4 linked regions of the Homo sapiens genome follow. Each later gene encodes a partner of the first gene's protein in a complex. Links are inferred from orthologs where the notes say so. Each region holds a gene or a part of one and is shown on either strand. Other genes may lie near its edges. The genes, in order: ORC2, ORC4, ORC3 and LRWD1.

Region 1 (7,034 bases):
TCATAGCAGCATCATTCGCAATACCCAAAAGGTTGAAGCAACCCAAGTGTCCATCTACAGATGAATAAATTTCAGTTTTGTACAATGAGAAAAGTTTGGGAGATTGGTTACAAATGGTGTGAATGTACCTAATGCCACTGAACCCATACACTTTAAAAATGGTTCAGATGCTAAGCTTTTTTGTGTGTGTATGAGATAAATTCTTGCTCTGTCACCCATGCTAGTGTGCAATGGTGTGATTGTGGCTCACTGCAGCCTCAACCTCCTGGGCTCCAGTGATCCTCCCACTTCAGCCTTCTGAGCAGCTAGGACTACAGGTGCATGCCACCACGCCCAGCTAATTTTTGTATGTTTTTTGTAGAGATGGGATTTGGGATTTCTTTCTTTCTTTTTCTTTTTTTTTTTTTGAGATGGATTTTCACTCTTGTTGCCCAGGCTGAAGTGCAATGGTGTGACCTTGGCTCATTGCAACCTCCATCTCCCGGGTTCAAGCGATTTTCCTGCCTCAGCCTCCCGAGTAGCTGAGATTACAGGCACCCACCACCACGCCCAGCTAATTTTTTGTATTTTTAGTAGAGACACGGTTTCGCCATGTTGGCCAGGCTGGTCTTGAATTCCCGTCCTCAGGCGATCCACCCGCCTTGGCCTCCCAAAGTGCTGAGATTACAGGCATGAGCCACTGCACCTGGCCAAAACTAAGTCTTTAGGAAAATGTAACTATGATTAAATAGTGTAATCTGTATAAACTTTAGGAGGATATTTGGCAATACATGTCAAAACTCTTATTGTAGAAGAATGTCTAATGACAGAGTAATGTATATATGATACATTATTAATTGCAAAAAGTCTATTTATAAACGTAATGGTGCAAGCTTATGTGTGCCCATGCATGTATGAACAGACAGAAGATACACACTGAAATGTTAACGGTTCCACGTTCTCTAAAGCAGGCATTCTTGACAGGTACAATACATCTCCCAATTGGGTAAAACTGGATCTTGGCACAGGAGGGAGTGTGGAAAAAAGACTTTGACATTATTAATATAATAGTCTGTGGCCCTCCAAAGCGTCACAGTACATAAACAGATATACAGCATATATGTAGTACTGAAATTTTTAGGGTGGGAAAAAGTGATTAGGAGAAAATGTCTAAAAAGGCTAATTAGGGGTCAATAATTTTAAAAAGGTTGAAAAACATAGGGCATGATGCCAAAAAATAAGGCAAAGTTCCCCAGTGTGAGGAATGAATGAATGAATGAATGAATAAATAAATAAATAAATAAATAAATAAATAAATGGTATGGGTTTCATATGTGCTGAGTACTGATTCTCTCAGGCCTTTGAGGATGCCAATCAAGGCCAGTAGCAGGGGTAGGGTTAGGGCCCTGGGGTATTTGTCCTTGGTCTGCAGCATCCTCTTCTATTTATTCCATTGTGCCTCCAAATATCATTTGCTGTGAGTGCTGTTATGTGAGAAAGGTTGGAAGCACTGAATTTCTACAACAAACATACTACTTTTTTAAGAGACAATTTTTATGATAAAAGTTTCCTTTGTGGAATACTGTTATCAATCTCTTCTTAGGCCTGGCATAATAGGGAGTCAAGAACACCAAGTTTTATTTAGAATATGCTCAAAAAATGTCAACTGTCTAGCTGTGGACACATAGGAGACCCTACCCAGCCCACTAAATCTATTGAGGAGCAGTGGTCATTTTTTGTATAACTCTATACATGGAGTATATGACTCTACCCCCATAGTTAATGAACTATGTAATTATGTTCATTAATATAATAAGTAATAGGCACAGATAACTCAACTGTGATTCATCTGTGGATATTCCAATTATATGCTATTTCTATGTCCAGATTTTAAAAATGAATTGAGCTAAATTGACTCTTGAGAATCTAGAATGGGAGAACTGAAAAACCAAATCACTTAACACTGGGAACTTGATGGACATTTATAAGTATGTGAGAATAAAACACATGTACATGAAGAAAATATGTGGCATAGAGAAATCAGAACAGATGCACAGAGATGACACAGGGAGACCTGGAGACTCATGAAAGCACAGTTCCTCAGTTTTTAACACTGTCCCAGTTCCAACTCTCCTAGTACCCAACAATATTGATTTCTTTCCTTTGTCATTATTTTTTTAAGCTAGGTTGTGGGGATCTGTGTTCCTTGTACCCAGGAAAAACCTAACTAAAATATAATTCGAACCTAAAAAAATGTTTTATGTTAAGAATAATCTTGCAGGAATCTGGCTTAGATGTAAAAATTAAAACCACACACATAATACCAGCATCCCTGGGTTAGAACACTACTTCTTGAAATGCTCCTCCTAGTTCTGTAAAGATCAAGGTAAGAATAAAGTAACTTGCTTTAGAAAGGTATTTTAAATAAGTTAAAAATATAAATATCTTTTTTTTGTTCTGTTTTGACCTAGGGTCTCGCTTTGTCACCCAGGCTGAGTATAGTGATGCAATCACAGCTCACTGTAGCCTCAACCTCCTGGGCTCAAGCAATCCTCTGCGTTAGCCTCCCAAGTAACTAGGACTACAGGCACACGCCACCATGCTCAGCTAGTTTTATTTTTTTTTTGAGACAGGGTCTCACTCTGTTGCCCAGGCTGGAGTGTAGTGGTATGATCACGGCTCACTGCTGCCTCAACCTCCCAGGCTCAAGTGATCCTCCCACCTCAGCCTCACTCATAGCTGGGACCACAGGTGTGTGCCACCATGCCAGGCTAGTCTCAAACTCCTGGACTCAAGCGATCAATCTGCTTTGGTCTCCCAATATGCTGAGATTACAGGCATGAGCCATCACACACCCAGCTTCCAGCTAATTAAAAACTTTTTTTTTTTGTAGAAACGGGATCTTACTATGTTGCCTAGGATGGTTACAAACTCCTGGGCTCAAGCAGTCCTCCTGCCTCAGTCTCCCAATGTACTGGGATCACAGGCGTGAGCCACCATGTCTGGCCATAAATAAATACCTTAAAAATAGTACTAGCTACTCAGGTGGCTAAGTTGGGAGGATCTCCTGAACCCAGAAGTTGGAGGCTACAATGAGCTATGATTGTGCCATGGCATCCCAATCTGGGTGACTGAGCAAGACCCTGTCTCTAAAATAAATAAATAAATAAATAAATAATCTTGAAAATAACTTTAGGAGTACTATGCAGCCATAAAAGGAATGAGATCATGTCCTTTGCAGGGACATGTATGAAGCTAGAAGTCATCATCCTCAGCAAACTAACACAGGAACAGAAAACCACACACTGCATATTCTCACTCATAGGTGGGAGTTGAAAAATGAGAACACATGGACACAGGGAGGGGAACAACATATGCCACAGCCTGCGGGTGGGTGGAGGGAGGGAGAGCATAAGGACAGACAGCTAATGCATGTGGGGCTTAAAACCTAGATGATGGGTTGAAAGGTGCAGCAAACCACCATGGCACATGTATACCTATGTAACAAGCCTGCACATTGTACACATGTATCCTGGAAAAATTTTAAAAATAAAATAACTTTAGAGTGGTTGGTCTATAGATTCCTTCTTACTGAAAACTATGTGCAGGACTGGTTGTTAAAAAAAAGAACTATGGAGAAATTGAAGCAAATGCTTTTTAGATGAGAAACATGATCATATAGAACACCACTGTTTAACCTACCAGACTACTTTTGTGTATCCTATAAAGCAATTTCTGCTACTAGCAGAAACGAGTGTATATTTCACCCCCTCAAATACCTTGAACATCTCTTCCCATAATTTCCACATAGTTCTGATCTTTTAAGACCTCCTGGTCATCTTCCTCCAAATCATATTCTGGCTTCTTTATTATTTTTTTGGGGTTGACCAAAAGCTGCGCTCGCTCCTTCTTCAATTTAGCTCCTATAAGAACATCCAAAGAAATAGAGCATGACAGGTATAAATTCTTTCTAAACATTACATTTAAATAAGAAATTATAATATTTATATTGTCATTACTTAAAAGCTGGGAAAAAAGCTTTCTCTTTGATTAAAACTGACCACTCTGACCACTCTTCCACAGTTTATATAGTTAAAAAAAAAAACACACACAATCTTGAAAGTATATATTTTTAGGGTTCAAAATAACCACATATTTTAAATTACAATGGGTAGTTATTAGTGACTACCACTCCTGGGCATTTTGTTTTATATTAGGCTTTACTGAACATTTTCAATTAAAGTTTGAAAGAATTAAACTAAAAATTAAAGCAGTTTTTATTTAGTTTTACTAACCAGATCAATCCTTTGCGCTATATTTTCAAAAGAAAATGTTAAAAGTTTTAAAAGTGAAATAATCCATAAACATTATAATAAGCATCTCTTCAAATTGTACAATCACTTAATACCTCCTTCTCTATCTAGAATGTGATTAAGAACATCATCATCTCCCACAAAGTGAACCTCCAGCATCTTGTCTTCCTTTAATTCTGGTTTACTCATTGTTGCCAACCTAAACAAAAACAGTAAGTTACTCAAAAGTGATGAAGAATTCATATCAACCACCAAATTAAACATTCACATAATGAATACATGTCTTTATCTAATATTTTTAAAGTCTTTTTAAGTATAAAAAATACATTATGCATTACTGTATTACTACATATTCAACTGTAGGTAACTCAATTCTTTATCTAAAAAATTGGGGAGGCAAAGAGATTCTGAGATTTGAGAAGAGCTAAATCCAATCAAGGTAGCTAAAATATACTCAGAAAAATAAAATAAAATATTCTCAGAAAAACAATTTTAAGTTTTAATGAAAGCTCTAACCAATCCAGATAAGCACATTAACAGAAAGGGGGTGGTTAATACATGAGTGTTTAGAAAAGTGACAGCCAAACAAAGAATAATGCTTTAATGGATTTTATTATCTGTTCACTAGAAAGCTACAGTCAATTGTGGGGAGTCTGTTAAACTTCACTTGTGTCCTAAGCCTGGATCAAAAAACCCTCAAGCACCTCCCTTTACTTTTATGGAATGCTTACCAAACAACTTTACAAATATGAATATGGCTTTCTAGATATCTTGGTAACTAAACAGTAAACACAAATCTTTCGAACACTTTACACTCAGTTCCTCACTGAACAAACCTCCAGAGTTTGGCAAGCAAAAGTTTGATCAACTCTGGCTAGTCTCACAAAATGAACTTTCAGAACTTACTATGCTACTGGCCTGAAAATAACTAATGATGATTTTAACTGCTGCCAGCTAATCAGTTTACCCAAAAAATGTAAACTAAGATTCAGTGTTCTTGGTGATTTCTTTTCTCTTCTCTCTTTCTTACAATCTTGTTTTCACCTTTTCTTTTGGCAGGAGAAACTATTGACTGTGTCTCTCTTTTCTTTCTTTTTTTATTGAGACAGGGTCTCACTGTGTTGCTGCAGCCTCAACCACCTGGGCTCAAGCAATCCTCCCATCTCAACCTCTGAAGTAGTTGGGATTACAGGCACATGCCACCATGCTTGGCAGGTTTTCCTTTTTTTGTAGAGATGGAGCCTCACTATGTTGCCCAGGCTGGTTCTGAGCTCCTGGAATTAAGCAATTTTCCCACCTCACCCTCCCAAACCTCTGGGATTTACAGGCATGGGCCACCACCACAGTCATTTATCTCTTCTGAGTTCATTAACTGCAGGAAGAAAACTAATTCAATGTTACCAAGTTTTATTTTGACAAGCAACATGCTTAAATGACTTCTTTCAGTTTTCATTTACCTTTTAAGGTACTACACATTCTGCAGCTGCAAAATTCAGATACAGTCACCTGTAATTGGAAAAATAACTCAGTCAGGGTCAGCTAGCAGAAAAATGAAAGCAATGGGGCAAAAACAAGTTCCACAAGTTTTAACAAGCATGATGAATAGATACATGTAGACCTTACAAAGCCAAAGCTGTTGTAATGGTATAGTAAAGGACAAAAAGACCATTACTGATTTGGCTAGGAAGCCCTAGATACTGAGAACATCTGGATGGAGTGGGAAGAGAGGAGGACAAAATTTGAGCACTTACATTGTGCTAGACAGTTTTGAGTACTCCATATGTATTCTCATTTAATCTGCACAACTCTATGAGGTTCATACTTTGTGTATAAAGATAATAAATAGTGGGCTGGGTGCAGTGGCTCATGCCTATAATCTCAGTGCTTTGGGAGGCTGAGGCAGGGGGATCCCTTGAGGCCAGGAGTTGAAGACAAGCCTGGCAACAGTAAGGCCTGCCTCTACCAAAAAAAAAAAAAATTAGCTGGGCGTAGTGGCATGTGCCTATAGTCTACTCGGATTGGGCAACAGAGTGAGACTCTGTCTCTAATTTTTTTTTCTTTTTTTTTGAGACAGGGTCTGGGCTCTGTCACCTAGAGCAGTGGTATGATCTTGGCTCACCACAGCTCCAACCTCCTGGGCTCAGGTGATCTGCCCACCTCAGCCTCCCATACAGCTGGGACTACTAGCTTCTGCCACCACGTCCAGCTAACTTTTGTATTTTTTGTAGAAATGAGGTTTCACCATGTTGCCTAGGCTTGTCTCAAACCTTTGGGCTCAAGCGATCTACCCACCTCTACCTCCCAAACTGCTGGGATTACAGGAGTGAGCCACCACACCAGGTCAAAAAAATTTTTTTAAACAACAACGACAACAAAAAATTGTGGACTTGGCTGTGATATGAAGGAAAAATTTTAAAAATAAAAATAAAAAATAAAGATAATAAATACTTCATCTATAACTTATGACCATTGCTTGTAAAACATGTCCTCTTGGGCCATTTTTCTAGTCATAATACTGTTTCCTATTATGGGGAAACTGGGTGTATTAGAGAAAAAGTTTAACCCATTTATGTAATATTTGTATAAAATAAAGCAACAGGTTTTTTAAGGGGCTGTTTGTGAGGCACTGTATTAGGCACATTTATGTACACCAGCTCATTAAATCCTCAGATTCTCTGACTTAGGTATTTTGCATCTCTCTCTTTATATATATAATGTCCCCAACTTACAAATGAGTAAACT
Region 2 (7,034 bases), about 53 Mb from region 1:
CTAAATATGTAAAATATATAAAATAAAATTATCTAAAATATAAACCACATACAGATAAAACTAAAGCCTCATTAAAGTTTACTTCAAACTAATAACATAAATCCTAAAGCTTAACTGTGATGTTCTTTTGAGATAGAATTTAGGAGAAATGACATTTCAACTGTCTAAGAAGAAAATTTTTAAAAAGTATATAATTTGTATTACTGCAGCATTATCCTTCAGCAATATTAGAAACTTTGTGTTAATTTACTAATTTCTAAAATTTGTGTTTTAATTGCTTTAAATCATATAGCAAGGAACATTTAGCTTTATTGCCTTTTAAGATACCTGAACATTTTCATTCCACTTCTCAGCAAAAACCTTGTCTGGAAACTCTGCAGGTAGAGATAACTGTTCTTTAAATATTTTAACATACTGTGGAAAACCAAATGAATTCATTAAGTGTATCTGCCGGTGAGAAAATCTTGACTTCACTCTTTTTTCTAAGAGTTCCAAAATATCCTTAAAAACAAACAGAAATCTCTATAAGGAAGATGAATGTTTTTAAAAAAACAAAAACACTGTACCAATGTTAGAGGTATAAGTAAACTATCACCTATAATTAGTAATGTTTAGTCTACAATACATAATTAAACATTTAAAACATTTTATGCAAACTAAATAATCCACCTCCAGGCATTTGCTGGCTTGGTGATGTCATGCCTTTTTCCCACCATGTTACTCTCAGCTAATCTGTAACATTCCAAGACCCAACATGACTGTTTAAAAAAACTGACAATATTGAATAGCTATATGTCACAATAACACCAAGAGTGTCAATAAGGAATTCTGTACATTCTATGAAGAACTGAGATTAAAAAATTAATAGCATGATAGGCAGCAGGAACCAACTTTAGGAGAGGAAAGTGGCAGAAATGCAACATGGCATTCGTAAGTTATCTTCCGGCTTTTTTTTTTTTATAGTAATGCTTTTAGACTCTATTTGTATTTGTGCTATTTTTCCTTAAAAAGAAATCAGGAATCAAATTTACTGTCAAAGAACACTAAAAACCAAAGGATAACTAATATGTACTGCTTGTAAGGACATACGAAGTGTTCTTAAATGAAGAAAATACTTCCACAAAACTGATAGGCATTCAAACTATCCAAGACATCAAAAGCACAATAGGTAAGCTGTCTTCCTAAGTCACATATATTGCAGGAACTGTCATTCCTAAATCTCTTTTTAATAATGAACTTGAGCAATTTTTCAAAATATATTATAGTACACAGCATATTATATATAATATATATAATTTATATTATATATGTATATATACATCTATATATATACAGTATAGTATAATATATATTTATTACTTAAGTTACACTCCAAGGTATACAACCAAGACAAATGAAACCAGATAACCACAAAAAAAGTGTATGTGAATGTTTGCAGCAGTATTATTTTTAATAGCTTAAGAAATATAAACAACCCAAATGTCCATCAACTGATGAATGGATAAACAAAGTGTGGTATATCTACACAACAGAATATTATTTGGTAATAAAAAGGAATAAAGGGCTGATATATGCTGTAACACAGATCAACTCTGAAAACATGTTAAAGAAGCCAGTCACACAAAACTATACGTTGTATGATTCAAAAATTACTAAACAGTCAGAAAGTGGATTAGCAGATTAGTGGTTGCATAGGGCTGGGGAGGGAACAGGGGATTTGGGGTGATCACTAAAAGGTACGTGGCTCTTAAACTGTGGTGATAAATGCACAACTCTATGAATAAACAAAAACCCTGTTAATTGTATAATTTAAATGAGTGAGTTGTATGGTATAAATTACATCTCAATAAAGCTGTTTTAAAAACAGTGACATGATATTTGATGACTTTAAGGAATTACAGCTAATATAACAATTATATTAGGGAAATATATTTTTAAAGAGCTCTTATCTCCTAAAAATACATTCTAAAATACTTACTGATAAAATGATATAATACCTAGTTTTTGCCTCAAAATAATACAGGAATGAAAGGAGATGTTGAGGATAAATAAAATTAGTCTGTAGTAATTGAATCTTGGCAATGAGTGGAGAAGGGAATTCAGGGCTCATTATTTATTCTTTCCTATGTATATTGTTGAAATGTTATAAAGATTTTTAAAAGGGGAGTAGTTTAAGCCCAGAAATATACATCTCCACATCTAGCCAGATGACTCTCATAATACCTACGTGAAGAAATCATGATATAGAGGAAAGAATTCAAGTGATCAAAATGGGATCATGGTTAGTTTGGGAAGGTGGACAGGAAAGACTAATAGCCTGAGGTAGGAGGTGGGAGGGTGAATAAAAAATTTTGAATGTTTTTATGAGGTCAAAGAAAAGTATAGTGCCAGCATGAGAACTAAAAGACAAGAAAGGTTATATTCAGAGATTCAGATATTGTACATTTATTTTCTATTAAGAAAGAGTTCTAGGTCACCCATATAGGTAGACAGTGGAAGTAATAATCTATACAAGCAACAATTCAGACCCTAAATTTGGGAATGAAAAGAGATGGAAGTAAATACTGTCTTTGTAGTAGGCAGTAATGACAGAAGTTGGCAATGTGGGCATACAGGAACTAGTAAAAACAAAACAAAACCAAAAAACAAAAATGGAATTACTCCCAATGGGGAAGAAGATGCTTGCTGGCAAAGTCACTACTCCCTCTATACTTTTGTTCTCTCCCTATAAACGTGGATACACAGATAAAATTATACTTGAGGCCAGGCGCAGTGGCTCACGCCTGTAATCCCAGCACTTTGGGAGGCCAAGGGGGGTAGATCACGAGGTCAGGAGTTCGAGAGCAGCCTGGGCAACATGGTGAAACCCCATCTCTACTAAACATACAAAAATTAGCCAGGCATGGCGGTGTGTGGCTGTAATCCCAGCTACTCGGGAGGCTAAGGCAGGAGAATTGCTTGAACCCCGAAGGTGGAGGTTGCAGTGAGCCGAGATTATGCCATTGTACTCCAGCCTGGGCGACAGAGCAAGACTCCATCTCAAAAAAAAAAAAAAAGAAAAAGAAAAAAAATTACACTTGAAAGAACTACACAGTTGGAGAATTATATATATACAATAAAAAAGAACATCTGATAACACTGCTAAGAAGTTACTGGCATTTTATTTGGTCCGTTATTGGGTCAACAACACTCACCACAGCCACTTCCACCCAAAGGAAGATTTTTTTTTTTTTGGCAAGAAGGAGGATGCTTCTTTGATCCTTGTCATCGCCTGCTGCTTTTGGCAAGGAGGAATAAAGATATGTGGAGCACCAGCCAGTGATGTATGAGGGATGTTTATACTAAAGCCATGTATCATAAGCTCTAGAGCACAGGAAAGGAGGGGCAAATGACAGTCACTCTATAGAGAAACAGCACTGGAAGGAGGACTGTTGAAATATGAATTAGAAAAAAGTTTCACTTTTCTGAAAAAGAAAAAGGGTTGTAGGAAAGGAGATGTGAACATGTAAATGTGCCTGACACATCTGCCGAGAATGGAGGGGGAAGAGGATTGCAAGAAAGCTATGGAGGCATGGCAGTCATAGCATGAGAAAAGAGACAACTTTGCTATGGTTTGGATATGGTTTGTCCCCACCAAATCTCATGTTGAAATTTAATTGCCAGTGCAACAGTGGGAAGTCACTGGAGTGGACCCTCATAAATAGATTTAATGCCTTCTTACTGGAGTGAGTTCTTGTTCTCATGGGGATAGATTAGTTCTTGAGACAGTGAGTTGTTATAAATTGAGGTTCCAACTCCTATCTGGTTCGTTTTTGCACATTTCGGTTCCCCATTTGACCTTCCACCATGTCATGCAGCATGAAAACCCTTGCAACAAAGCCAGTGCCATGCGCTTGAATTTTTCAGCCTGCAGAACTGTGAGATAAATAAACTTCTTTTCTTTAAAAATTACCAAGTCTCAGGTATTATGTTATAGCAACACAAAATGGGCCAAGGCACTCTTCAATACCAGTTTTATCTGAATTCAGTAAGTTAATACTACATGCGTGTAAGAAGGTAAACACAAAAAGGCCTGTACTGCTGTCCAAAGGTACACATGGTTCAATATGTACAGAGCCTTCACAAGGCAAAGTGATAGTGATATTGAGACTATAGTTAAAATCATTCTAAAATATCCCATGGAATGAAGAAGCCACTATCTACTGTCAGTGCTTGGTAGAATCTTTTCCATTTCTGGAGATGTGTACTTTGAAAGTTGGAATAGTATTACTTAGAGTTGATTTCAAGCCTTTTCAAAATATGGAAAAAAATCTTAAAATAAAAACTATTACCAAGTTTTCTCAAATATTGGTGAGATTTAACCGCCTCATTACTTGATAATGTAGAAATTATATTTATTAGCATAATCTGATTTCATACTTTTTTCTTCAGTAATTTCACTGGGAGGAGGGAGGTATTCATTAATGGGCTAAGGTAACTACTAAACTGTTTTCCTCAATTTGAGTTGAAAGCAGGATAAATACACCAGGCACTGCTGAAACAAAATTTTTAAAATGACCTAAATAAGTGAAAAAAACTAGCAGTGTCAGCAATTAAGCTTGAATTTTAAAATATTATAATCAATTTTTTTAATGAACAGAAAGACTTACCAATCTACATGTAAGACCAATAACTGCTATTGGGGTCTGTGCAGACTGAGAAATGTCAAAAAGATTATAGAGAAGTGTTTGGTTTTTATGATGAGCAAAAAGATCAAATTCATCTAATATGAAGATCACTGGGCAACTGCTAGTTCGGTCACCTAAGATAAAATAAGAGCATTACATTAATAAGAAATTATATCCACCTTTCCTAAATTTCCAAACCATTTACTATATTTCAGTTTTTAAAACTCAATTCTGTAAACATTCTGATAGCCTACTTTGGGTAGGGGATTTACTGATGCATATACGTTCATTCAACAGAAAAAAATTATTCAAAGGACAAACACAGCCCCGACTGCTCTCAAGAAGTTCAGTCTAGGCTGGGCGTGGTGGCTCATGCCTGTAATCCCAGCACTTTGGGAGGCTGAGGTGGGTGGATCACCTGAGGTCGGGAGTTCGAGACCAGCCTGACAAACATGGAGAAATCCCATCTCTACTAAAAATACAAAATTAGTCAGGTGTGGTGGCGCATGCCTGTAATCCCAGCTACTCGGGAGGCTGAGGCAGGAGAATTGCTTGAACCCAGGAGGCAGAGGTTGTGGTGAGCCAAGATCGTGCCACTGCACTCCAGCCTGGGCAACGAGAGTGAAACTCCATCTCAAAAAAAAAAAGTTCAGTCTAGGCCGGGCATGGTGACTCACGCTTGTAATCCCAGCACTTTGGGAGGCCGAGGTAGGTGGATCACCTAAGGTCAGGGGTTTGAGACCAGCCTGGCCAACATGGTAAAACCCCATCTCTGCTATTAAAAAAAAAAAAAAAAATTAGCTACTTGGGAGGCTGAGGCAGGAGAATCTCTTGAACTGCGGAGGCAGAGGTTGCAGTGAGCTGAGATCACACCATTGTATTCTAGCCTGGGCAACAAGAGTGAAACTCCATCTCCAAAAAATAAAAAGTGCAGTCTAGTTCCTAGACTCTAGTAGAGTTTGTTGTTGAAAAATGTCAAAAATCATTTAAATGACTAAAGACTATTATTTTTATAATTACGTAAATATAATTCTTATTTAATGATTATAAAATTGACAGAGTTTTCTATACCTACACAGAACCAAAACACTTTAAGATTAAAATATAAGGGGAGTCACTAATTAATGAACAAAACTAATGCTTTAAAAGAGAGTTGTTTATTTAGTAGAAATACAAGGTACATTTCTTGTAGAAATACTTTTTATAAACAAACTTGTAGATTATAAAGTTCAACTAAAGCCACTTAAACTCCCTTGAAGCACAACTTTTAGCATTTCAACTACAATGCTTTTCATGGGGAAAGTTCCACATCACCCTCTGGTTACATTTTTCTCACTTCAATAATGGAAACAACTTTAGTAAAAGAATCCCTTTTACCTTAGGCTTAACGCCTTTATATTTGTGTTAAAAAGTGAAACAAATATCTGATAAAAGAAAGACTTATTTCAACAAATAACAAATACAGTAGCCTAAATGACTTAATACTGGTACAAAACCAAAGGGATTACTCAAAAGTCTAGAAAGAGACTTATGTACTAATATAGAATTTTAGTATTTGATAAAATATTGCATTATACATCAGTGGGGAAAATTAGTCTATTCAAAGTCAGATCCCTACTTTACAGGTAAAATCAGAATAAATTCCAAACAAATTATAAATTACAAATATATATATATATTAAATAAAAAGATGGATCAATGAATGTTTTTATAATCTGAAGGAGAGAAAAAACTTTCTAGATAAACTTAACTATGTGGAAAACATAAAACTTTAGATCAGCAGAAAAGTCCAAACCAAACTTAAGGGAAGAGAAAAATAAAACACAAAAATTCCGATAAATAAGCATAACATAAACATTACCACAATAGGTCAAAGACCCAACAGGAAATACAGTCGTGTGTCCCTTAATGACAGAGATACGTTCTGAGAAATGTATTGTTAGGTGACTGCATCGTTGTACAAGCATCCTAACAGTGTACTTACCCAAGCCTAGATGGTATAGCCTACTAGACACCTAGGCTATATGGCATAGCCTATTGCTCCTAGGCTATGAACCTATGAGCATGTGATAGTGTAGACAACTGTAACACAATGCGAAGTATTTGTGTATCTAAACATATCTAAACACAGGAAAGGTACAGTAAAAATATGGTTTTATAATCTAATAGGACCACTGTCACATATGTGGTCTATCATTGAATTAAAGGTTGTTATGTGGCACATGACTGTACATAAACCAGGAAATTTCAAAGGTCAATAAAAATATGAAATGACAAGCATCACCACTATCAGAATTATGCAAATTAAGTAACCAGAATTATGCAAATTAAAGAACAAAATTATTCAAATTAAACTAAGAGCTGAAA
Region 3 (4,851 bases), on another chromosome or scaffold:
CAAACAGTTTGGGACTTTTTTTTTTGACACGGAGTCTCACTCTGTCACCCAGGCTGGAGTGCAGTGGCCGATCTCAGTTCACTGCAACCTCCGCCTCCCGGGTTCGAGCAATTCCCCTGCCTCAGGCTCCCGAGTAGCTGGGACTACAGGCATGTGCCACCACACCTGGCTAATTTTTTGTATTTCTTAGGAGAGATGGGGTTTCACCTTGTTGGCCAGGATGGTCTCGATCTCCTGCCCTTGTGATCCACCCGCCTTGGCCTCTCAAAGTGCTGGGATTACAGGTGTGAGCCACCACGCCTGGCCTTTTTTTTTTTTCTTTAAAGTTGTAAGACTACAGGAAATGGAGAGGCAGAGACAGTTTTGGAACCTATGTAGTCACCAGGAGAAACAACCTGTAAGATATTCATGTTACTTACTGCCTACTACACTAAAGTGAGGAATGCCAATGCAGGGAATTGGGAGAGGAGGAATGAGGATTGCTAAAGCAACTGCAAATAATTTATACTCCTGGATAACGGAATTTATTACATTTACATACTCTAAGTTCAAGAATGATTTACTCACAATTTAGTAATGACTTTGGAAAGTACAGTAAAATGTGTGAGCAGTTTTAGTTACATTATTATTTGTTGGAGTCTAAAGTACTCCACAGGTGTTTTGATACATGCCTGTTTGGGGTTAGCAATGTACTTTTCTGGTTAAACATCAATGGGGGTTACACATTTATCTTCTCAACAAAACAGGCTCCTCTAATATATGTAAATATGACTGGTCACCTTTTTCTCTTAAGCTAAATGTGATAGTTCTGGCTTTGCTTATTTGCTTTCTAGCAGCCTCCCCATGTTAGTCTTGCCACATGGTCAGTCTTCTGTTTGGTAGGTTTTATAAATCCTAAAAGTTCTAGTTCAGAAACAGCTCTAATAAACCGAGCACTGGAGGCTTTAATTAAGGAAACTGGCCGTGCTGTATTTTTGACAAAAAGGGATTAAAATCTCAATGTTAAAATACTAGTTGGTAAAATGAAGTAGATAGTTCAGATATAAACTCCTAAATTAAACTATAACTGTTACTGGAAAACATTAATTAGAATCCACTATCAATAAAACATAAATGGAAAAGTACTTAATGCTTCCTAAATCTAATGTTCTACATAGTATGGAAATTGCTCCCCGCCCCCACTTCTAAACGTACATTAGAAAAATAGAGAATTCAGACCAGGTCAGTGGCTCACACCTGTAATCCCAGCACTTTGGGAGGCCGAGGCAGGCAGATCACCTAAGGTCAGGAGTTCAAGACCAGCCTGGCCAACATGGTGAAATCCCATCTCCCCTAAAAATACAAAAATTAGCCAGGCATGGTGGCAGGCGCCTGTAATCCCAGCTATTTGGGAAGCTGAGGCAGGAGAATCGCTTGAACCCGGGAGGTGGAGGTTGCGGTGAGCCGAGATCGTGCCACTGCACTCCAGCTTGGGCAACAATAGCAAAACTCTGTCTCAAAAAAAAAAAAAAAAAAAAGAATTAGGCCGGGTGAGGTGGCTCACACCTATAATCCTAGCACTTTGGGAGGCCAAGGCGGGCGGATCACAAGGTCAGGAGTTCGAGACCAGCCTGGCCAACATGGTGAAACCCCGTCTCTACTAAAAATACAAAAATTAGCTGGGCTTGGTGGCAGGCACCTGTAATCCCAGCTACTTGGGAGGCTGAGGCAGGAGAATTGCTTGAACCCAGGAGGCGGACGTTGCAGTCAGCCAAGATCGCACTACTGCACTCCAGCTTGGGCGATAGACGAGACTCCGTCTCAAAAACAAACAAACAAACAAAAAAAACAAAAACCAAAAAAAGAGAATTCAATAATGGCAGTTTCATTTTTGGTAAATTTTAAAATATAATCTTGATATAAATTTGATACCAAAAGTTTTAGGTTTGGTCTCATTTTGGATTAAATTCAAAATAAAGATTCAGAAATTTCAGTTATTCTAGCACCATATGGTTAATATTAACAAGTAATACGGTTGTTTGGAGTACGCCTTTATAAATATCTAGTGTAGACCTGGAGAAATTATAAACTTATATTTTATGTGTAGTTGGACATTGTAGAAATGGTTTTAAAAGGATACTGGATAATTTCATTCATTTCTTCTGAGGTTGCAGAATTTGCATCCATTTTTTCAGCAGCTGTCACAACTGTTGCAAAAGCCTTTTGAATAGACAAGACAGAAGAAAATAAAAATGTCTACAGTTGCCAAACATCTTTTACTATACTTCTTTTAATGGCTGTTGATAGCTGGCACATATTCTTCATTATATCAAATTTAAGATTGTCAAAACTACACTGATGATCACTTTAAACCACTTATATATTAAAAGATAAAGTAATGGTTCCTGAATAATCTTGTTTCAGAGAACTAAGAGTATGCAGAGAAAAGAAACGAAGCTAGTCAAAGGTAAAAGAACAAGAAAGCCCTGTTTCCTCTACTAATCTTACTCCAGGAAAATATCTATTTTTCTTGGAAGCAGCCAATTATGGATATTTTTTAATGGTGACAAGACATCTGTAAGGCCTTTAATAGAGTTAAGATCTTTGTAATACTATTCTGAAGACAGAAAGAATAGTTGTTTATTTTAAAGAATAACAACAGTTGTTTATTGCCTTGCCAAGTATTCCTTATACTTCCTGATTGCTAAATCTGTTGTGTAGTTACTTCAATTTTTTTTCTTTTAAGCAAGAAGAGAAATGCTAGTTAATAATATACTTTATTTTGTGAAATAACAGAACTGACCTAAATTGTTTAGTTTTTGCTTAATGCTAACTATTGGGTTAGATCACATACTTATTTTGACCTAGCATGAACACAGAATTGGCTTGGTTAAGGAATTCAGGATCAGAGGGCAGGGGATTGGGAGTGGGGACTGTTGAACTACCACTTCCTAAGGAACTTTTAAAGTTTGAAATGATTTATGCTTTCCAAATAAAAGACAAGGCATTAAACACAAGATAAATTCCAAAGCACTAAAAGTATAAAACTATTCTGAGAAAGTCATCATGGATGGTTAGAAAAATATCTAGCTTGTTCTTTTCCCTACAACCTACCTCTGACCAGTCCACGAGGTTGATGAGCCTGCTACACTCTAGGTGCAGTTTGTATGCTATGCAGATGTCTGGGGCGATATTCGGAATGCAGCCTTCTTCGCTTTTCAGTGCTTCATTCTAACAATTAACAGTAAACTAAGATGACTAACTTTTATAAATTATTAGGAATAAAATCAGACATTAATGAAGCCCCCAACCTAAACTGAGTAAACCAGTAAATGGAATCTTGGTTTCCCTTATTTAGTGAGTGAGTCTATTCAATAGTTAGCTAGTTCTTGTTTAGGTTTATGTCTTGGTCATAACCCCTCTAGTTCTTAGTCACTAGAAGAATATTCCCAGGATTAGAAGATAAGCATATTTTTCATTTCAATCCATAAATTACTAATTTCTCAGACCTGAATGCACTTAATGTAAAAAGTTTATGGAAATCTTTAGGAATACTTAATAAAATGGTACTTCCAACACTTATAATTAGCTGAATTCTAACAATTACTATACTGTATTAGTAAATACTAATACCACTTACCAGGGGTATAAATTTCTTTTAAAGAAAAGACTACGTTGTCAACACTGCAGACCTTAAGCCCTATAGAAACCATCAGTGTTTCTTCAACCTATTTGAAATCCATGGCTTTTACTGAGAAACACAAAGTCTTACATACACACCCTGCTCTGATATTATAATATCAGGGGTATATTATAATATATCCCACCCAAAGACAACTGAAATCATACCAGTTCTCTTCTGTGACCCACCAGCCAAGAAGAAGACAGATTTTGTAAGTTTTAATTTATGGTTTATATATTAAAATTAACTGATTTTTTGGTTAAGTATGAAATTATTCAGTGGTTTTCACCATCACTGAAAACCATTGACTTATATCGTCCTACTCAATATTCTTGTAATACTCTGCATGTTTGTGTGCCGTTTTGCAATGAGAAGCCAGTACACTGGAATGCTCTTCATAGGTCTTACGGAGTTGTTTCTTAAGTATTTATTGTGGCAAGATTTCTGGGTATTTAACTTACCACTCTTTCATGTATATACAGCTTATTGAATGTTTAAAGTGATCATTTTGCCCGGTCATAAGAAAGCTAGTTTCTAAAATTGTGAGCTGTCTTGAACTATTGTTTAAAGAGCTTCCAGGAGTTGATAACTGTGTCTGGACTTTAGCAAGGGCAGCTGAAGTGTGCTGCCCCAGGAGTTTTAGTGGCAGACTGCTGGTTATCCTCTACACTCAGCTCTGCAGATGCTCTCAGAATAGACCTTTCTTTGTTTTAAAATCCAAGATGAAGTCCCAAAGTATTTCTCTTTCCCACTAGAAACAACCATTTCGGTCTTTCAGTAATTTATTAGGCCATATTGTTTAATCCCTGTCTGCTGTTATGTTTACAGGAAACATTTCTTTTATTTTCACAAGAGTGGTAACATTATACTCTCAAGTCTTTGTGCCTATGATCTGACTTTAGCATGTGAAGGGCAAAGATTACACATGGTCAAAAACTGGCAGCAACAGTTGACTACTAATTGCTATCTTTATGGGGTTAGAAATTTTTTTCTACAGTCTAAAGAATTTTTAAAAATATATGAGACGTGCAACCCTGAATTGCCGACTCTCTGCTCATTAAAACATAACTGCAAATTTAGTATATTTTTATGACAATGACGCCCAGAGTCTGAGCTAAACTATCAGAAAACTAAATGTTCATCTTACCTTGAGATAATAGTAAGGATTGTTGAGTGCAGTATGGAGGGCA
Region 4 (5,719 bases), on another chromosome or scaffold:
TGAGGTGGGGTCCAGCCTGTGATGGGGAGGAAGGAAGCCCCAGGCAGACAGGCCCATGGTCACAAGGCCCCCTCCACAGGCCAGACTGGCGGCCTTGAAACGGCCAGACGACGTCCCACTCAGCCTCTCTCCCAGCAAGCGGGCGTGTGCCTCCCCGTCGGCCCAGGTGGAGGGCAGCCCTGTGGCAGGCTCCGATGGCAGCCAGGTGAGCTGAGGTGGCAAGGAGCAGGTGGCAGATGAGTCGGGGCTGGGCAGCTGTGACCCTTCTCTCCCCCCACAGCCTGCTGTGAAGCTGGAGCCCCTGCACTTCCTGCAGTGCCACAGCAAGAACAACAGCCCCCAGGACCTCGAGACCCAGCTGTGGGCCTGTGCCTTCGAGCCGGCCTGGGAGGAGGGTACATGGTGGCGGGCAGGCGGGGCAAGGGCCGCTGGAAATAGGGCCGCCTGGATGGGTGGGGGATCAGGAGACAGAGCTTAAAAGGCGCCATCAAGGCTGGGAGGAGGAGGCTGCAGGGAGGACCTAGATGGGAAATGTCTCTGCTCATCCGACCTCTCAAAACCGGGCACTCAGGGGCCACATCCCAGACCGTGGCCACGTGCGGCGGGGAGGCTGTGTGCGTAATTGATTGCCAGACGGGCATCGTGCTCCACAAGTACAAGGCACCCGGCGAGGTGAGTGCAAGGCCCTGTCCCTGCTGGGCAAGGGTGCCCGACTGACTCCTGAACAGCAGCATGGGGATGGATGCAGGCTCGGCCCCCTGCCCCATGGCCTTTTTCTTTCATGCTGGGGCTCCCTCCCCCAGGCCCGGGCTACCCGCGTGTTCACACCAATAGCTCTGCCCCAGTGACTGTTTACTCTAACCCCCGCCCAGGAGTTCTTTTCTGTGGCCTGGACCGCTCTGATGGTGGTCACACAGGCTGGCCACAAGAAGCGCTGGAGTGTGCTGGCGGCTGCAGGCCTACGGGGCCTGGTCCGGCTGCTGCACGTGCGTGCCGGCTTCTGCTGCGGGGTCATCCGAGCCCACAAGAAGGCCATCGCCACCCTGTGCTTCAGCCCCGCCCACGAGACCCATCTCTTCAGTAAGCCCCTCCCCTTCACCCCTGGGACCCCCAAGCACCCCTGTCCTGCTGCCCCAGTAGCCTCCACGCTCCCCTCCCTGGGATGGCTGTGAGCTCGGGCGCCTGCCGGGCCCCAGTCTGCACCGCTCCGACTCTAGCTTTGGCAGGAAGCCATGTCGCTTCAACCCTGGCTTTATCCACAGCCTGCTCTGTGGCCTCGGAGTTTTCCAACAGCCTGGGCCACTCTGTCCCCTGTCAGTGACCTGGGGGGATGCCCCTGCCCCCGGGTGTGGCGCCCCTGTCAAGGGGGATGGATGAGCCACAGGAAGTGGCCGCTGGAGCCACCGCATCAGGTTAGATGGAGGAAACAGGGATTGGGGGCCCAGGAGTGTTCCTGTCTCCTAGCCTCGGCCCGCCCTCCCCGCCTCGGAGGGGCTGGCCTTGGGACCGTGGGCTCAGCCTGGGATGCAGCCAGCAGGAGGGAGCAGGGTCATCTCAGGGCCACTTCTCCCCTACCCCACCCCCTCTTCAGCGGCCTCCTATGACAAGCGGATCATCCTCTGGGACATCGGGGTGCCCAACCAGGACTACGAATTCCAGGCCAGGTGATGCTTCGGGTGAGGCTGGGGAGTGGCCAGCTGCTGGGGCAGGGACACCTCGGTCTGGGTCTGATGCTCTGTTCCCCCTTGCCCACTGGCAGCCAGCTGCTCACACTGGACACCACCTCTATCCCCCTGCGCCTCTGCCCTGTCGCCTCCTGCCCGGACGCCCGCCTGCTGGCCGGCTGCGAGGGCGGCTGCTGCTGCTGGGACGTGCGGCTGGACCAGCCCCAAAAGAGGAGGTGAGGCTGGGCAGGGGGCGCCTTGGAAGCCAGGCCTCTGCAGAGGGTGGCTGTTGGCCCAGATGGGCTCACAGCAGCCTGGGCACACCCGGGTAACCATAAGGGTTGTTTTTAGAGGCCTCTTCGCAGAGCTGGCTTGTCCCACCTTTCTGCCAGGCTCTGGAGGAAAGGACTCTGACCCTGCTCTCACCCTGGGTTCAGCTGTGGGACTGGGCCATGATGACCTCCCCTTCACCTGGGGCTTCAGCACCATGCTGTGCCCACGTGATCCAGCCCACTCCTGCCACTCATCAGCAGTGTGATGGTCCTCTGTGCTGGCATAATGTCCTCATCTGTAAAGAGGGGCCGATGGCTAGCGGAGGGCAGGTGAGGTGGTGTCTGGGCAGGCAGGCTTTGGAAGTGCCACGTTGAGGCTTTCTGGCTCATCTGTCCCACCTGGAAGGCCTCTGAGACAGGGCTTGGCAAGGGGTCCCTGTCCTCTTGGGGCCCCCAGCCTACTGGGGAAGACAGATGCTCAGCAAAGGTGGCCAATCAAAATCCCACAGTGTGATGCCAGCTACGAAGGAGACGGAAAAAGAGTAACGGGCAGAGGGACACTAGCGTGGGGGCCTCAGGGGACTCTGCTGAGGTGACCAGCGGCAGATGGATATTCTGGGGCTCACGCTTTCCTCCCTGGGAGCCTGGTGAGGGAGTCAGCGGGCGGAGGGTGGGGAGGTGCTTGCATGGAGGAAATGGTACGTGCAAAGGTCAGTGGCAGGGGAGCCAGCTGGCCTGCTCCACCATGTGGCCACAGCTGGGTGGACCCAGCCCAGAACAAGGTGGCAAGGGTGCCTGGGCGGGGCACGCCGGGCTTCGTCAGCCACGGTAAGCTTTGCATTTCTATTTATTTACTTTTTATTTGAGATAGAGTCTCCCTCTTGTCACCCAGGCTGGAGTACAGTGGCTCGATCTCGGCTCACTGCAACCTCTGCCGCCAGGTTCCAAGTGATCCTCCTGCCTCAGCCTCCCGAGTAGCTGGGATTACAGGCGCACGCCACCATGCCCGGCTAATTTTCTTTTCTTTGAGATGGAGTTTCACTCTTGTTGCCCAGGCTGGAGTGCAATGACACGATCTCGGCTCACTGCAATTTCCACCCCCCCACCGGGTTCAAGCAATTCTTCTGCCTCAGCCTCCCAAGTAGCTGGAATTACAGGTGCACGCCAACACGCCTGGCTTATTTTTGTATTTTAATAGAGATGGGGTTTCACCATGTTGGCCAGGCTGGTCTCGAACTCCTGACCTCAGGTGATCCACCCGCCTCAGCCTCCCAAAGTGCCAGGATTACAGATGTGAGCCATTGCACCCAGCTGACTTTTGTCTTTTTAATAGAGACGGGGTTTCACCGTGTTGGCCAGGCTGGTCTCGAGCTCCTGACTTCAGGTGATCCACCCACCTCAGCCTCCCAAAGTGCTGGGATTACAGGTGTGAGCCACTGCCCTGGGCCAAGATTTGGATTTTTAGCTTACCTACAACAAACAGCCCAGGAGGAGCTTCGACACAGCAGCTGCTGTGTTGAAAGGAGCAGCAGGGGCCTTGGCGGCAGAGGTGGTGGCGGCGGTAGTTATGGGCTTCTCTTTCTCACCAGCAGCCCCTGGGCCGCCGCCTCCCTCCCTGCCCGTATGTCTGGTCCCTGTGTCTAAGATGCTTCTTCTCTTACCCTCTGCCCAACTGGCTCAGGCCTGGCCCATGGTTAGCTGCTGGGCCACTCTCCTGGCTCCAGGCTAGCCTCCGAGAGTCAGGTAGCTGCCGGGACACTTCTCCAAGCAGACACTCCCACACACTCTCAGCTCTGAACCATGCAGCAGCCATTCCCTCATTCCCCCATTCCCCCGTCTTTTGAGTCAGAGCAGATGCCCCCAACAGCCCCCTGGGCCATGGCCCCCCATTCCCCCGTCTTTTGAGTCAGAGCAGATGCCCCCAACAGCCCCCTGGGCCATGGCCTGGAAACACCTGCTCTACTTGGCTGCCAGGAGGCCCCTGTTCATCTCACACTCGGTCCCAGAGGCACTGGCTCGCTTCAGAGCCTTATCCAACCCCCTGGCCTAGCCCCGTCCTGGAAGAGCCACCCCTCGTGCCTCTGGGTCACTACTGTGACTCGGGACACTCAGGTGCTGGCTCCCCCTTCCAGGGCAAACTGAACCTTCCTGGGGCCAAGAATGTATCTCTTTGGTGGCATCTTCTGTGCAGCCTTCACACAGGGCAGGGTCCCCAGCAGGTGCGCTGCAGATGCCTGGGTGAGTGGGCAGCTCTCTATCTGCAAGGAATGGCCAACTAGCATCTCGTGCTGCCCCACAGGGTGTGTGAAGTGGAATTCGTCTTCTCTGAGGGCTCCGAGGCATCTGGACGGAGAGTGGATGGGCTGGCATTTGTGAATGAGGACATCGTGGGTGAGTGAGCTCAGCTTGTGGGACAGCCTGGCCTCCGGGCACACAGATGGACCGCTTGTCCCTGGGCTAGGCTTCTGAGGATCTCTAGTGGGAGAAGGTGTCTGGGAGGGGCCACCCTGCACAGCTCTCCCTTCTCCCCCACAGCCTCCAAGGGGAGCGGCCTGGGCACCATCTGCCTGTGGAGCTGGAGGCAGACGTGGGGGGGCCGGGGCAGCCAGTCCACGGTGGCAGTGGTGGTCCTGGCGCGGCTGCAATGGTCGTCCACCGAGTTGGCCTACTTCTCGCTCAGCGCCTGCCCTGGTGAGCCTGCCCCCCTGCCCGCCCCATCCCGCGGGCTTCCGGGAGCTCTGCCCCCACTCAGACTCCACCTCTGTCCCGGCAGATAAGGGGATTGTGCTCTGTGGGGATGAGGAGGGCAACGTGTGGCTCTACGACGTCAGCAACATCCTGAAGCAGCCACCCCTGCTGCCGGCAGCCCTGCAGGCCCCCACACAGGTACTGCCCGGCTCACCCTGCCCAGGCTTGGGCTGGCAAGGCATCAGGGGCCCTGCCTTTGGTCAGCAGGAGCCCAGCCCAGCCCTCCCCTCTCTCCCCACCAGATCCTGAAGTGGCCCCAGCCCTGGGCCCTTGGCCAGGTGGTGACCAAGACCATGGTGAACACAGTGGTGGCCAATGCCTCCTTCACCTACCTCACCGCCCTGACGGACTCCAACATCGTAGCCATCTGGGGGAGGATGTAGCCTCACACCATCGCAAAGGACCAGGGACACAGCTAACTAACTTATTCAGCTTTGGGCCGATGGGGGTGGGGGGGGGTCTTTCAGTGAATATTTTTATTAAACTCTACTGTGGACAAGAAGCCTGTGGAAAGGTGTTTCGAGTTATGCAGGAAGAAGTGTTCCTGCTTTGACTGACAGGCAGGCCCAGGAGTTGAGGCTTCTAGAGCAGAGACTCTTGGGAGCTCATGGGTTTGCACACTTCTCTCCGGCTCAGCACAGCCCCCGCAGCAGCCCCTGGACCCCGGATCTTTGGTCCAGAATGAATTCATCCCTGCCAGCCGGACGCCCCTGAAACAGGTCATCTGCCTGCATCAAGCCTGACAATCCATTTGCTTGCGAAGTCACCGCTGCTCAAGTCCACATCCAGGTCTCTCCCGCTATACTTTATTAGGAATATAAAACCTAATCTATGTACAGGACACGTCGGTGTCAGGGTGAGGGGTGGCCACAAGGCGGGCCATGGCTGGGACCGGCCGCTCTCCTCGGTGTGGTACCTGGAGCGGAGGGTCAGGCACAGGTAGGAACGGGGCTCACAGGCCGAGCAGAGCCCCCTCTGGCCCCTACTCAATTCCTTCCTGCTTGTCTTTTATGGCCACCTGGGAGAGAAGAAGGT

What was found.
Region 2: the proteins of ORC2 (region 1) and ORC4 are in contact, whole or in part, in a cryo-EM structure (PDB 7JPP), measured with the Homo sapiens proteins. Residues at the interface, in NP_006181.1 of Homo sapiens: Asp501, Asp504, Tyr508, Ser512, Gln518, Glu522, Val554; in NP_001177808.1 of Homo sapiens: Lys168, Asn169, Arg195, Glu200, Leu201, Lys204, Arg205.
Region 3: the proteins of ORC2 (region 1) and ORC3 are in contact, whole or in part, in a cryo-EM structure (PDB 7JPO), measured with the Homo sapiens proteins. Residues at the interface, in NP_006181.1 of Homo sapiens: Leu239, Glu242, Tyr243, Ala246, His247, Asp268, Arg273, Leu276, Val279, Ser280, Phe283, Glu286, Leu287, Leu290, Lys296, Leu297, His299, Lys300, Met302, Leu303, Gln304, His306, Leu307, Phe309, Tyr314, Gly315, Leu316, Arg320, Glu324, Arg327; in NP_036513.2 of Homo sapiens: Thr3, Ser4, Ser5, Met6, Ser7, Lys8, Gly9, Cys10, Phe11, Val12, Phe13, Lys14, Pro15, Arg20, Ile22, Ile26, Tyr29, Phe30, Lys32, Tyr47, Val111, Thr112, Lys139, Asp318, Lys326, Gln329, Leu330, Leu333, Tyr337, Glu589.
Region 4: the proteins of ORC2 (region 1) and LRWD1 are in contact, whole or in part, in a crystal structure (PDB 8SIU), measured with the Rattus norvegicus proteins. The link is inferred for Homo sapiens from one-to-one orthologs. Residues at the interface, in NP_001012003.1 of Rattus norvegicus: Val11, Pro12, Ser13, Val14, Gln15, Phe16, Val17, Gly18, Asp19, Val22, Leu23, Ser24, His25, Ile26, Leu27, Asp28; in XP_038945348.1 of Rattus norvegicus: Pro262, Leu263, His264, Phe265, Leu266, Gln267, Cys268, Ser270, Asn273, Ser274, Pro275, Leu320, Val321, Leu322, His323, Lys324, Tyr325, Lys326, Leu367, Val369, Gly372, Phe373, Cys374, Pro596, Pro598, Val599, Ala600, Val605, Ile630.

What each region holds. Positions count from the first base shown.
Region 1 is NC_000002.12:200,953,643-200,960,676, forward strand, and holds part of ORC2 (origin recognition complex subunit 2), read right to left. Parts: intron 5,799-7,034; 5' UTR 5,750-5,798; intron 4,492-5,749; 5' UTR 4,482-4,491; coding exon 4,388-4,481; intron 3,903-4,387; coding exon 3,759-3,902; intron 1-3,758. UniProt on the Homo sapiens protein: Component of the origin recognition complex (ORC) that binds origins of replication. DNA-binding is ATP-dependent. The specific DNA sequences that define origins of replication have not been identified yet.
Region 2 is NC_000002.12:147,947,724-147,954,757, forward strand, and holds part of ORC4 (origin recognition complex subunit 4), read right to left. Parts: intron 4,802-7,034; coding exon 4,650-4,801; intron 502-4,649; coding exon 328-501; intron 1-327. UniProt on the Homo sapiens protein: Component of the origin recognition complex (ORC) that binds origins of replication. DNA-binding is ATP-dependent. The specific DNA sequences that define origins of replication have not been identified yet.
Region 3 is NC_000006.12:87,663,102-87,667,952, reverse strand, and holds the end of ORC3 (origin recognition complex subunit 3), read right to left. Parts: coding exon 4,809-4,851; intron 3,211-4,808; coding exon 3,094-3,210; intron 2,200-3,093; coding exon 2,120-2,199; intron 943-2,119; coding exon of another isoform or gene 936-942; coding exon 830-935; 3' UTR 502-829; downstream 1-501. UniProt on the Homo sapiens protein: Component of the origin recognition complex (ORC) that binds origins of replication. DNA-binding is ATP-dependent. The specific DNA sequences that define origins of replication have not been identified yet.
Region 4 is NC_000007.14:102,467,983-102,473,701, forward strand, and holds the end of LRWD1 (leucine-rich repeat and WD repeat-containing protein 1), read left to right. Parts: intron 1-79; coding exon 80-205; intron 206-280; coding exon 281-395; intron 396-571; coding exon 572-672; intron 673-872; coding exon 873-1,080; intron 1,081-1,591; coding exon 1,592-1,664; intron 1,665-1,759; coding exon 1,760-1,900; intron 1,901-3,486; exon of another isoform or gene 3,487-3,549; intron 3,550-4,235; coding exon 4,236-4,327; intron 4,328-4,471; coding exon 4,472-4,627; intron 4,628-4,709; coding exon 4,710-4,822; intron 4,823-4,926; coding exon 4,927-5,067; 3' UTR 5,068-5,186; downstream 5,187-5,719. UniProt on the Homo sapiens protein: Required for G1/S transition. Recruits and stabilizes the origin recognition complex (ORC) onto chromatin during G1 to establish pre-replication complex (preRC) and to heterochromatic sites in post-replicated cells.